Regions from separate parts of the Homo sapiens genome. Here region 1 is linked to region 2. Evidence: fine-mapped expression QTL. Tissue or cell type: spinal cord. Region 2 holds a variant in brackets; the other region holds the start of a gene. All regions are shown on one strand. Distances are between the middles of the regions.

Region 1 (5,117 bases), 210 kb after region 2:
TGGCAGGGCATCAGTTTCCGGCCTTACCTTGTCAGCCATGATCATAGATGCGCCCCCATGAATGCCCAAGATGGGGACGAAGGTGTGGGAGGAGATAAAATCCAGCATCTGGGCTACGGCCTCCTGGTCCGTGTCGTCCCCAAACACGAGGCCGTGGATGCGTGCCCCGGACATGAGGTCGCACACGTGCGTGATGAGGCTCTTGGGGTCGGTGCGGTTCATCAGCAGAGCTACCACGTTCACGTCCAGGGGCAGCCCCGCCGCCTGCTCGGGGCCCCACAGTGTTCGAAGTTCGCGCTCTGTCACGTCGTGGCTGTGACCCAGCATCACCGCAATATTTAGCGCGGGGGGACCCTTCTCCGCCGCCGCGCTCGGCGCCGGACCGCGCCAGACCAGAAGGGCCGGCAGCACCAGCAGGGTCCAATAGCCCACTCTGCCCATAGTCGCCACTGACGGTCCCTGCAAGGTGAAGAGTGAGAGGCAGGGCCGCGGTGAGCAAGGCGACCAGAAGAAAGGGATTACCAACTTGGCTTCCTGCTCTAGGAGCCAGGCATGGAACTCAGCAGCAGGATAGGCTGCTGGGATCACGGACTCCATTCCGAGTCCCCGACGCCATCCACATCCCTCGATCCATCTCTAACTCTATCCACAACTCCAATTCGAGCTAATTCTCCATCCCCCAGCCCCTTCTCGCATCCAGCTTCCTCATCCCCTGTCTCCAGGCACTTCCCCATCCCCATCTCTGTCCATATCCCCCACCGCATTCCCCAAGTTCGCCGCGGGCCACAGACCCTAAGCGCCGCGCGTGTTCTGTACCCCACCAAGCTCCTAGGTGCACAGAATAAACCCTCCATCCAACCCCTCCCACCTGGGATAGAGAGGACCAAGTTATCAACCCCGCCCCCTGCTGGCGCGGAGCGAACTACAGACCCCGCAGGGCGTGCGGAGGCGGCACCCAGACCCCGCGTCCCAGCTTGAGAGCTCAGCTAGTTGGCTGACCCCGCCCCCTACGAGCCCGTCGTGTGCACCACACACTTTGCTCTACGCCCAGCCCCAACTACAGACCCGGCTCCTCTCAGTCAGAGTACACCCCAAGTGCTTGGGAGTGAGGACGCTGCCTGGTGGGCCCAGGCTCCGCTGTGCCTGGGGAACTTGGGGCTCGCCCCACCTCGAGCCAAGGGGCCGTGGAGAGTCCTTCACCCCTACACGCGCGCGTGCACACACACGTGCACACACACACGCACACACACATGTTCACACACACACACCCTCTCTCACGCGCGCCGTGTGCAATGCTGAATTCTGGAGAGTAGGCGCGTCCCCCCGCGGGCCAGCGCGTAGGAGCTGGCAAAGAACGTGCGTAGGGGGAAAGGTAGGCTCCCAAGAAGCTCCCAGACGGACGTGGACTGTACAGCCCCTCCCTAGCCTTTCTACTGCGGGCGCTGTTGCCAAGTCCTAGGTGCACGTGGGCAGTGGGCCGCACACGCTCATAGGCACGCGCGCTTTTCTGCGCACTTCCTCAGACTGCTGTAGCGGTGCCCACGGCCAGCCGGAGTCCTCACATGTCCTCAGGTGGTGCACACGCATGAACTGCGGCAGGTGCACAGCCCTGCGTACCTGCAAATACCAGCACGGTCGTGCACGCGTGCCCTGACGCGCGCCTCTCGGGACGGACGCTGCTGGAGCCGGGGGAAGTTGAGGCGAACTCCAAGAGGCCTCGACGTTCCTGGGTAAGCGCCGCGGAGCGCGGAGCCGCAGCGCCCCCTGGTGCCCCTCCTGCACTTCGCCGCTGGGCTCCCTCCCGCTTTCCCTCTCCCTCTCTAGCCTGATCCCTCTCCCGCTCTCCCTCCGGTCGAGTCTCCCTCCTCCCCGGCCCAAGGAGCCCTGATCTCCCTCTGGGACGTACCTGTAGCCCGAGAAGGTCGAGGATGCAGTGGGGCGCGCTGCGCGCACGAGCATCTCGGCCGCCTCAGCAGCCACCGGGTTTAGCGGGTTCCCGCATGCTGCGGCCCCAGCGCGCTCCCCTGGCTGTCCCGCGCTGTCCGCATCGCCCCCACGGGGGGCGGCTATCCCAGCCGGAGGCTCTGCAGCAGGGCTCTAACGGGGCGGAGGAGAGAAGGAGAGGCAGGGTCAGCCCACCAACGAGGGGAGGGAGGGTTGAGGGGAAGGCTGCAGTCTGCAGTGCTCACAAGCCCCCCTATGCGCCCAGGGGGGCTAGACAAGAGGGGGGAAGCTGAAGCCCGATGCCCACGACGCCCCCAGTGCGGATCCTCAGCCCCTGTGGCTGATAGCGGGAGCTCCACTCCAGGGTGCACAGGAGAATGGGAGCCCCAGGTTGGCCACCCACGAGAAGCTAACTGGGCACCTCCACCCGCACCCCCTACCACCTCCCCAGCGCCGGCTGCTGGGAGTTGTGCGACCGGGAGCTGCTGAGCGAGGGAGGTAGGGAGAGAAAGAGGAGGTAACGAGGGTGGGGGGGCGCTGGCTGAGTTTGTGACGAGCCAGCAGTAGGAGAGGGGGAGGGAAGGACGCGGGCTCCCGCGGTCCCGGTTCCCCGAGGGAGGTGGATCTTTCCCACGCAGCGACCCTCTTGTGATCCTGCCGCTTCCTCCCTCTTCAGGCCTCCCACCTCCCCCCTTCCCAAGGGGGCCTCCCAGGCCCGGCGTCCCGCGCTAGCACTCACCGCAGCCTCTCTCCACATAGTTCTCAGCAGTGGCCGCTCCTGGTCATCTCCAGGGCTGATGGCTGCGGCCGCGATTCTCAGCGCTCACCCGGTCCCATGATCCGGCCAAGCCCTAGGAGCTCCCCTCCAAGATCCCTAGCTCCGCTTCCTGCCCCACTCCGGACGGCAACTGCCCGGTCCTCTGAGCGCGCCGGAGCACCCTCTCCGCAACCCAGCTCCGGGCTGGTGTGTTTGAGGGCGAGTGTGTGTGTGAGTGTGGGAGCGCGCTCGCGTGTGGCCGGGGATCCCCGCGGTCCCCGGCCGAGAGAGGCGCGGGCGGGGAAAGGCAGCTCCCTCCGGGCCCTTCGCTGCTGGGCCAGCTCCGCGCCGGGCGTTCGGCTCCCCACTTCCCAGCGGGAGTCCGGTGAGCGCCTGGACACCCTGGTTCACAGCACTGGCAAAGCCGGGTTCCCGGGGCGTCTTTCTGCTGCGGTCGCCTCCGAGGAAGAGGAGAAGGAAGGTAGCGGCGCCCTCCACACCAACTTAGGGACTTGTTCTCAGCCGGCGAGACGCAGTAGCCCCCGCTCAAGCCCAAGAGGCTTCGAGCTCCGGCGGGCGAAAGCGTCTCCTGCCCGCAGCCTCTCTCCTAGGTGGGTCGAGACAGACCCCGCAGTCCCTCGGCGGCGACGCGGAGCGCGGCCACCCGTTCCGAGAGCGCACGGCGGCAAATAAGGCCAGGATAGGTGGCTGGCTGGCGACGGGGGCGCCTGCGGCGGCGCGCGCTGCTGTCCGTGGTGTTGGAACCACGCTCTCCGCCCGCTCCCGGGCGTCTGGTGCGGCTGAAGAATCAATTATTCAGATCTCTGCTACCGCTTCCTCCTCCCCCAGTGCCTCGCGCTGGGTACAGTTATCCCCCTCCACGCACAGGCGCGCCGACACACACACACACACACACACACACACACACACACACACAGAGTCTGCTCCAATGCTTCTCCCTGTGCCTCGCCACCCCCGTACGGGAACCCACTCCTCTGATCTCAGGGAGCCAGAATCCTAAAAGCAAAGACATCTGCATTTCCCACATGCTTCCTTCTAAGTTCTACCAAACAGAAGCCTCCCTGAGGCTGCCACTTCTAAGCTACCAGAAGAGGTGAGCCAGAGAACATGGGACGGCCCGGGTGTGTGAGGGCTTGGTTGACTTGAATTCTAGCGACTGGGCATGAAATACATGGTCAAGGGAGGAGCTCTGCCCCTTTTATATTCACCTGTATCTCCAACGCCTGTCTGCCTTTCAGGCCTTGGAAGGAAAGGGGTCTTAAATTCTAAGAGGTTTTGCAATGACTGTTCCAACCCTGCCTCCTCCACTTAACCTAATGTCACCTGCTGCGGTCTAAATGTGTGTGTTCCCACCCCCAAATTCATAGGATAAAATCCTAACTCCCAAGGTGATGGTATTAGGAGGTGGGGACTTTAGGAGGTGACTTCATGGCTTCATGAGAGTAAAATGGGATTTGTGGTCTTATAAAAGAGATGCCAGAGAGTCAGCTAGGTCCTTCCACCAAGTGAGACTTAATCAAGAAGGCATCGGCCTATGAACAGGAACTAGGCCCTCCCCAAATACTGAGTCTGCTGCTGCTTCATCTTGGACCTCCCAGCCTCAAGAAGTGAGAGAAATAAACTTCTGCTGTTGATGATGTTTTGCTATGGCACCTGGATCAAACTAAAATATCACTTTTGGACATTATATTACTTCCCTTTATTGATCACTAATCTGGAAATGGGGGGCAGTAAAAACATCTACTTCTCAGGATTATTTTGAAAAGAAAAGGAAGTAGCCTTAATAAAGGGGTCAACAAGGTCTGGCACATAGTAGATGCTCAATCAACATCATGCACCTTGAAGTAGCCTGGAAGCAGGGGAACTTCTTCCAAGAATGTGGATGTGGCTGCTGAAATGGAGACAGGAGAGGGGCACAGTGTGTGGAGACAAATGGATTCATTATTGAGCTGGTTGTTCTATGCTGGGTTTCCTGGGTTTTTGTTTTTGTTTTTTTTTTAATCCAAAAGACAGAGAAAGCGTGAGGGAAATGCTGGAAAGTAAATTAAAATGGGGGATTGTATAATATAAGGCAGGGAACAGGAAAATGTTTCCTTTCTTGAGTCTATGGCTGGGCTGAACTGATTAGGCCACTCCTTGGCACCCATGCAAGACTCTGGCTTGGGGTCTAAAGGGGAAGTTAGGCCATTTTATTTAAATGAGTTATAAATTATAGACAATAAAATGCATATCTCTCAAGGGTTTCATTTGTGAAGGTTTTTTGGTGTTTTTTTATTTTTTTGTTTGTTTGTTTTGTTTTGTTTTGTTTTTTTGACAGGGTCTCACTCTTGCCCTGGCTGGAGTGCAGTGGTGTGGTCGTAGCTCACTATTAACTTGAACTCCTAGGCTCAAGTGA
Region 2 (5,000 bases):
CCCTATTCACAAATAATTATCTAGCCCAAAATGTCAAGAATTCCACTGCTGAACAACTCTGCCTTAAAGCCTTAGCTGCATCAGCAGCTCACAGGAGACTCACAGGCACGCCTACTCCCGCACGCCATCTTAGACCTACTGAATTAGAATTCTCTGAAGTGGGGCCTGGGGTTGGTGTTTTAACACACTCTCCGTGTGAATCTTATACACACTACAGTTCAAGAATCACACTCTAGGTAGAGCCAACCTTGACGTCAAAGAAATCTCGAGTTCTTGTTCTGCACCAAGCATTGGGATCCCTAATACAGAAAAAAGCAGCTCAAATTCAATGTTTGAGTAAGCACTTGACTTCAGCCTTCAGGATACAACCTGCTAGGCCTCCAGGTGAATAATTTAACTTGTTTTCTCTTTATTAGCACTATTCCAGAAAAAAATTGACCTGTAAGGTTCATAGTCCAAAGCAACAAGTCTTTAATGTACAATCCTTTTCTTAGCCCTGGAGCTTGGAGATTATTTCTTCAAGTTTAAAGCTAGGAAATAGAGCAGTGTTTTGGTGCATTGCCCACTAGAGAGACTGGAGTAGAGACCAATGCAGGAAAATCCTGAAACCTTTTCATCTTATTAAGCTCAGTTTATATTTTAAAACATATGAAAGAAAGTGCTTTTGAGATATGGAGATAAAGATACGATAGATCTGCTAAGGAAAAGAGGCCTTGAGGATTGTTTAGATTCACTTGGCTGCTGGAGGGCCCTAGAAAGAAGTAAATTAGAGGGGAAATAAATCTGGAATCGAGTTCTTGCTCTGCCTTAACTGACTGTGAATTTAAAAAAAATCATTTTGGTTCAAGAAATATGTATTAAGGATCTCTGATGAGCTAGACACAAAGTTAGGTACTGAAGATAAAATAAATAAAGCAGGCAGAGTCCCCTACCTTAAGAAAATTACAGGCTGGTAAACTCTCAACAGGAGAAATATTGGATATATCAAATATAGTTCCTTCCCCTGAGAAACGCAGACTGGTTGGTGAGACAGACAAATAGATTTTATGATTTCAGAACAATGTAGTAAATGTTAAAGTATTACAGAATGCTATGGAATAATGGAGAGATGAGAGGCTTATTCACCCTGGGAAATAAAGGAAGCCTTTCTGGAGAAGACAAAGAGTTGTGTAGATAGTCATTTGAGAGGCAAGACTGGGGGGAAGGGGAGAGGCTAGAAGGCTATTTCAGGAATTCTATAAAGAGATGATCAAGGCATGAACAAAGGCTATGGGTGACAAATAAGAGCAGACAGTATGAGGTGGGGTGAATTAAGGATGCCCACACTGTTTTCTGTTATTCTTCCCATTGACAGGTGGATTGCTTTATTCTCCTCTTGAATCTGACCAGCACAGTGACTATGTGACCAATAGAAAAGCCTAATTTTCAGTAAAACAGAAGCTTCCACTTCTTCCCTGATATAACAATTTCCCTTGGGTATGTCAACTCAAAACTCAACCACCATGCTTTGTGAAATCCAAGCCACATAAAAAGGTTACATTAGGCAGTGAGCTACGCCCCCAAGCCAATAGCCAGCTCCATCCACTTAGCCATGTCATGAGCCATCTCATACATTTCAGCCCAACTGTGCTCTCAGGGAACTGTAGCCTCAGCTGTTATTACATGCAGCAGAAAAACCACCTAGTAGAGCCCAGTCAACCCACAGAACTGTGACTGACAATAAAATGATTCTTGTTTCTAGCTCCTGTATCTTGTAGCAAGAATATATAAGAATGTAAAACTGCCAATGTCGGGTAAGAAAATGAGATGGCTGAAGATGATGACATGTCAGTCTAACTTTACCATAAAAATTATCTGATCTAGTTTATCTGAAAAATAGTTCCAGCAGTGTAGAAGTTTAAGAAAACAGCAGAAGATAGCCAGAGTTCTGCTTCTGGTATGGTAGGAAATCTCTTAACAGATTCCCTCCCACACCCAAACAGGTAAAAAATTAAAGCTAGAAGGAAAAAAAAAATATACCTGAAGGCTCTGTAGAGTAAAAATAGCCAGTAGATTTCACAGGGACATTGAAACATGGAAGAAGGGCTCATCATAGAGTTCTACATTTTTGCCACCTAGGTCTGACAGCATGCTGCTGTCCCAAAATGGCACCGGGTGGCTCAACATCTAGTGGAAGAGCCAACCTCTTTCTGGCCTGAGGAGGTGGAAGTTAGAGACCTGGAAGTCCACGGCCAGCAGAATATAAAAACCCCAGAAAGAGGAGACTTAGAGAAGGGAATTCTTGGCATGTATATGTAAACTCTGCCCAAGCCTCTGGCCAGTCCTTGAACAAAGGGTGAGTAGACAAGGCTCA[A/G]AGTAGTTTGCATTTAAACCCAACAGGACTGAGAACTAAGCCTCCACCTGAGAGACAGATATGGAAATGTAAGTATAACCAGGTTAGTTACCTGCTAAGACACAAATATGAATACTCTTTAAGGAAATATAACCCACAATATAGCATTCACAAAGTGCTAGTACAATTCAAAATTACTTTACATATAAGAAGTAGGGAAATCTGACCCATTCTCAAGCAAAAAAGACTTACTTTACATATAAGAAATAGGGAAATCTGACCCATTCTCAAGGAAAGAAGACAATCAACAGAGGCCAATCCCAATATGATCCAGGTGTTAAAGCAGCTATTCTAACAATACACTTAATGAGGTAAAGGAAAATATGCTCATCACAAAGAAAAAGGTAGGAAGCCTCAGAAGAGGAAAATAAAAAAAAGAACATTTAGAAATGAAAAACAAAATATCTGAAATAAAGAATTTACTGGATAGAACTAACATGAGAATGAAGATGACATAGGCAGGAGTCAGAGAGCTTGAAGATAGATCAATAGAAATGACTTAAGCAGAGGGGCTTTTATAAATTGACAGAGTGAGATCTAACATACATGTGATTAAAGTGTAACCACCCAAGATCACCTTGCCACTGTCTAGACAGAGCCGATTTATCAAGACAGGGGAATTGCAATAGAGAAAGAGTAATTCACACACAGCCAGCTGTGCAGGAGACCAGAGTTTTATTATGACTCAAAATCAGTTTCCCCAAGAATACAGGGATCAGAGTTTTTAAGGATAATTTGGTGGGTAGAGGGCCAGTGATTCAGGAGTTCTGATTGGCTGTCTGGAGATGAAATCACAGGGCGTTAAAATTGTCCTCCTGCTGTGAGTCCGTTCCTGGGTGGGGGCCACAAGGCCAGATGAGCCAGTTTATCAATCTGGGTGGTGCTAACTGATCCATCAGATGAAGGGTCTGCAAAATATCTCAAGTACCGATCTTAGGTTTTACAATAGTGATGTTATCCCCAGGAGCAATTTGGGGAGGTTTAGAGTCTTGCAGCCTTCAACTGCATGACTCCTAAACCATAATTTCTCATCCTCTGGCTTTAGGCAATCCCCAGGCAGGAAGGGTGTTTGTTTTGGGAAAGGGCTAATATCTCTTTGTTTCAAAGTTAAACTATAAACTAAGTTTCTCTGAAGGTTATTTTGGCCTACACCTCCGCCCAGGAAAAACAAGGACAACTTGGAGGTTAGAAGCAAGATGAAGTCACTTAAGTCAGATCTCTTTCACTGCCATGATTTCTCAGTTATAATTTTTGCAAAGGTGGTTTCAAAAGTTCCTACAAGAAAGAGAATGGAGAAGGGGAAAAAATATTGAAGAATAATGGCCAAAAAGAAATTTGGTGAAAGACATAAACTTACAAATTCAAGAAACTCAAAGAACCCCAAATAGGACAAATGTGGAGAAAACCATGCTAGGCACATCACAGTCAAACTGATGAAAATCAAAAGAAAGAAAATCTCAAAATTAGCAAGAGAAAAATAGCACATTATATATAGAGAACAATGATTCAAATTTTTCACAGACTTAAGATTAGAAACTACAGAGTCCAGAAGACAGTGGAATAATGTCTTTATAAGTGCTGGGGGGAAAAAAAACAAATTCTATAATTAGTGAAAATGCCCTTCAAGAATGAAAAAGAATTAAAGACTTTTCAGATAAAATAAAACTAAGAGAATTCATTTCCAGCAGACCAGCCCTTCAAGAAATGCTAAAGGAAGTTATTCAAGCTGATACAAGAGAAAATAATACCAGAAGAAAACTCTAATTCCTTCAGGAATTAATGAAGAGCATTAGAAGCATAAATATCTGGATAAGCATAAAAGACTCTTCTTTTAATTAAAAAAATACATATGCATGTGACTATTTAAAGCACAAATCCTTACATTGCCTCTTAGGGTATTAATGTACAGATGCAATGCATATAACACTATAGCATACAGGATGGTGAGGGTGGAAGAAGAGAGACAGGCCCTCTCACATTGTTTTATACGGTTTTATACTCAGAAAAAGAAAGAGAAGCGAAACTAAAGGCAGTTAGCCTGGTGCCTAGGAACCAGACCCAAAACCAAGGAACCAGACCCGAAATCAGGCCTGGGCCTGCCTGACCTAAGCCTGGTAGTTAAAGATCGACCCCTGACCTAACCGGTTATGTTATCTATAGATTCCAGACATTGTATGGAAAAGCACTGTGAAAATCCCTGTCCTGTTCTGTTTCGTTCTGATTACCGGTGCATGCAGCCCCCAGTCACATACTCCCTGCTTGCTCAATCGATCACGACCCTCTCACGTGGACCCCCTTAGAGTTGTGAGCCCTTAAAAGGGACAGGAATTGCTCAGTCGGGGAGCTCAACTCTTGAGACAGGAGTCTTGCCGATGCTCGCGGCCGAATAAACCTCTTCCTTCTTTAACTCCGTGTCTGAGGAGTTTTGTCTGCGGCTCGTCCTGCTACAAGGGGAATGAGTAGGCCCTATACTGAAAAGTTTCTACATTGTATGTGAAGCAATGCAATACCAACCCTAAGTAGCCTGTGAAAAGCTAAAGATGTTTCATGTGATCCCTAGAGCAATCACTTTAAAAATGCAAATAGAGATAATTTCACTTCTTCCTTT

The links. PIP is the estimated chance that this variant, and not a neighbour inherited with it, causes the effect.
Region 1: it holds the start of GRIN2A, and the variant in region 2 is fine-mapped to the expression of GRIN2A in spinal cord (GTEx, PIP above 0.99). The same link has a PIP of 0.9 or more in caudate, hippocampus and putamen.

What each region holds. Positions count from the first base shown.
Region 1 is chr16:10,179,971-10,185,087 of GRCh38, forward strand. It overlaps GRIN2A (glutamate ionotropic receptor NMDA type subunit 2A), which reads right to left and starts at 2,458. Exons shown (of 13, transcript NM_001134407.3): 1 at 1,907-2,458; 2 at 28-459. The coding sequence starts at 441. RefSeq lists silencers at 1,546-1,655, 1,666-1,725.
Region 2 is chr16:9,969,811-9,974,810 of GRCh38, forward strand. The region is part of intron 2 of GRIN2A (glutamate ionotropic receptor NMDA type subunit 2A); the gene reads right to left. Among named protein-coding and RNA genes, the nearest start is that of GRIN2A, 210 kb to the right of the region's middle. The variant A/G (reference allele first, on the strand shown) is at 2,354.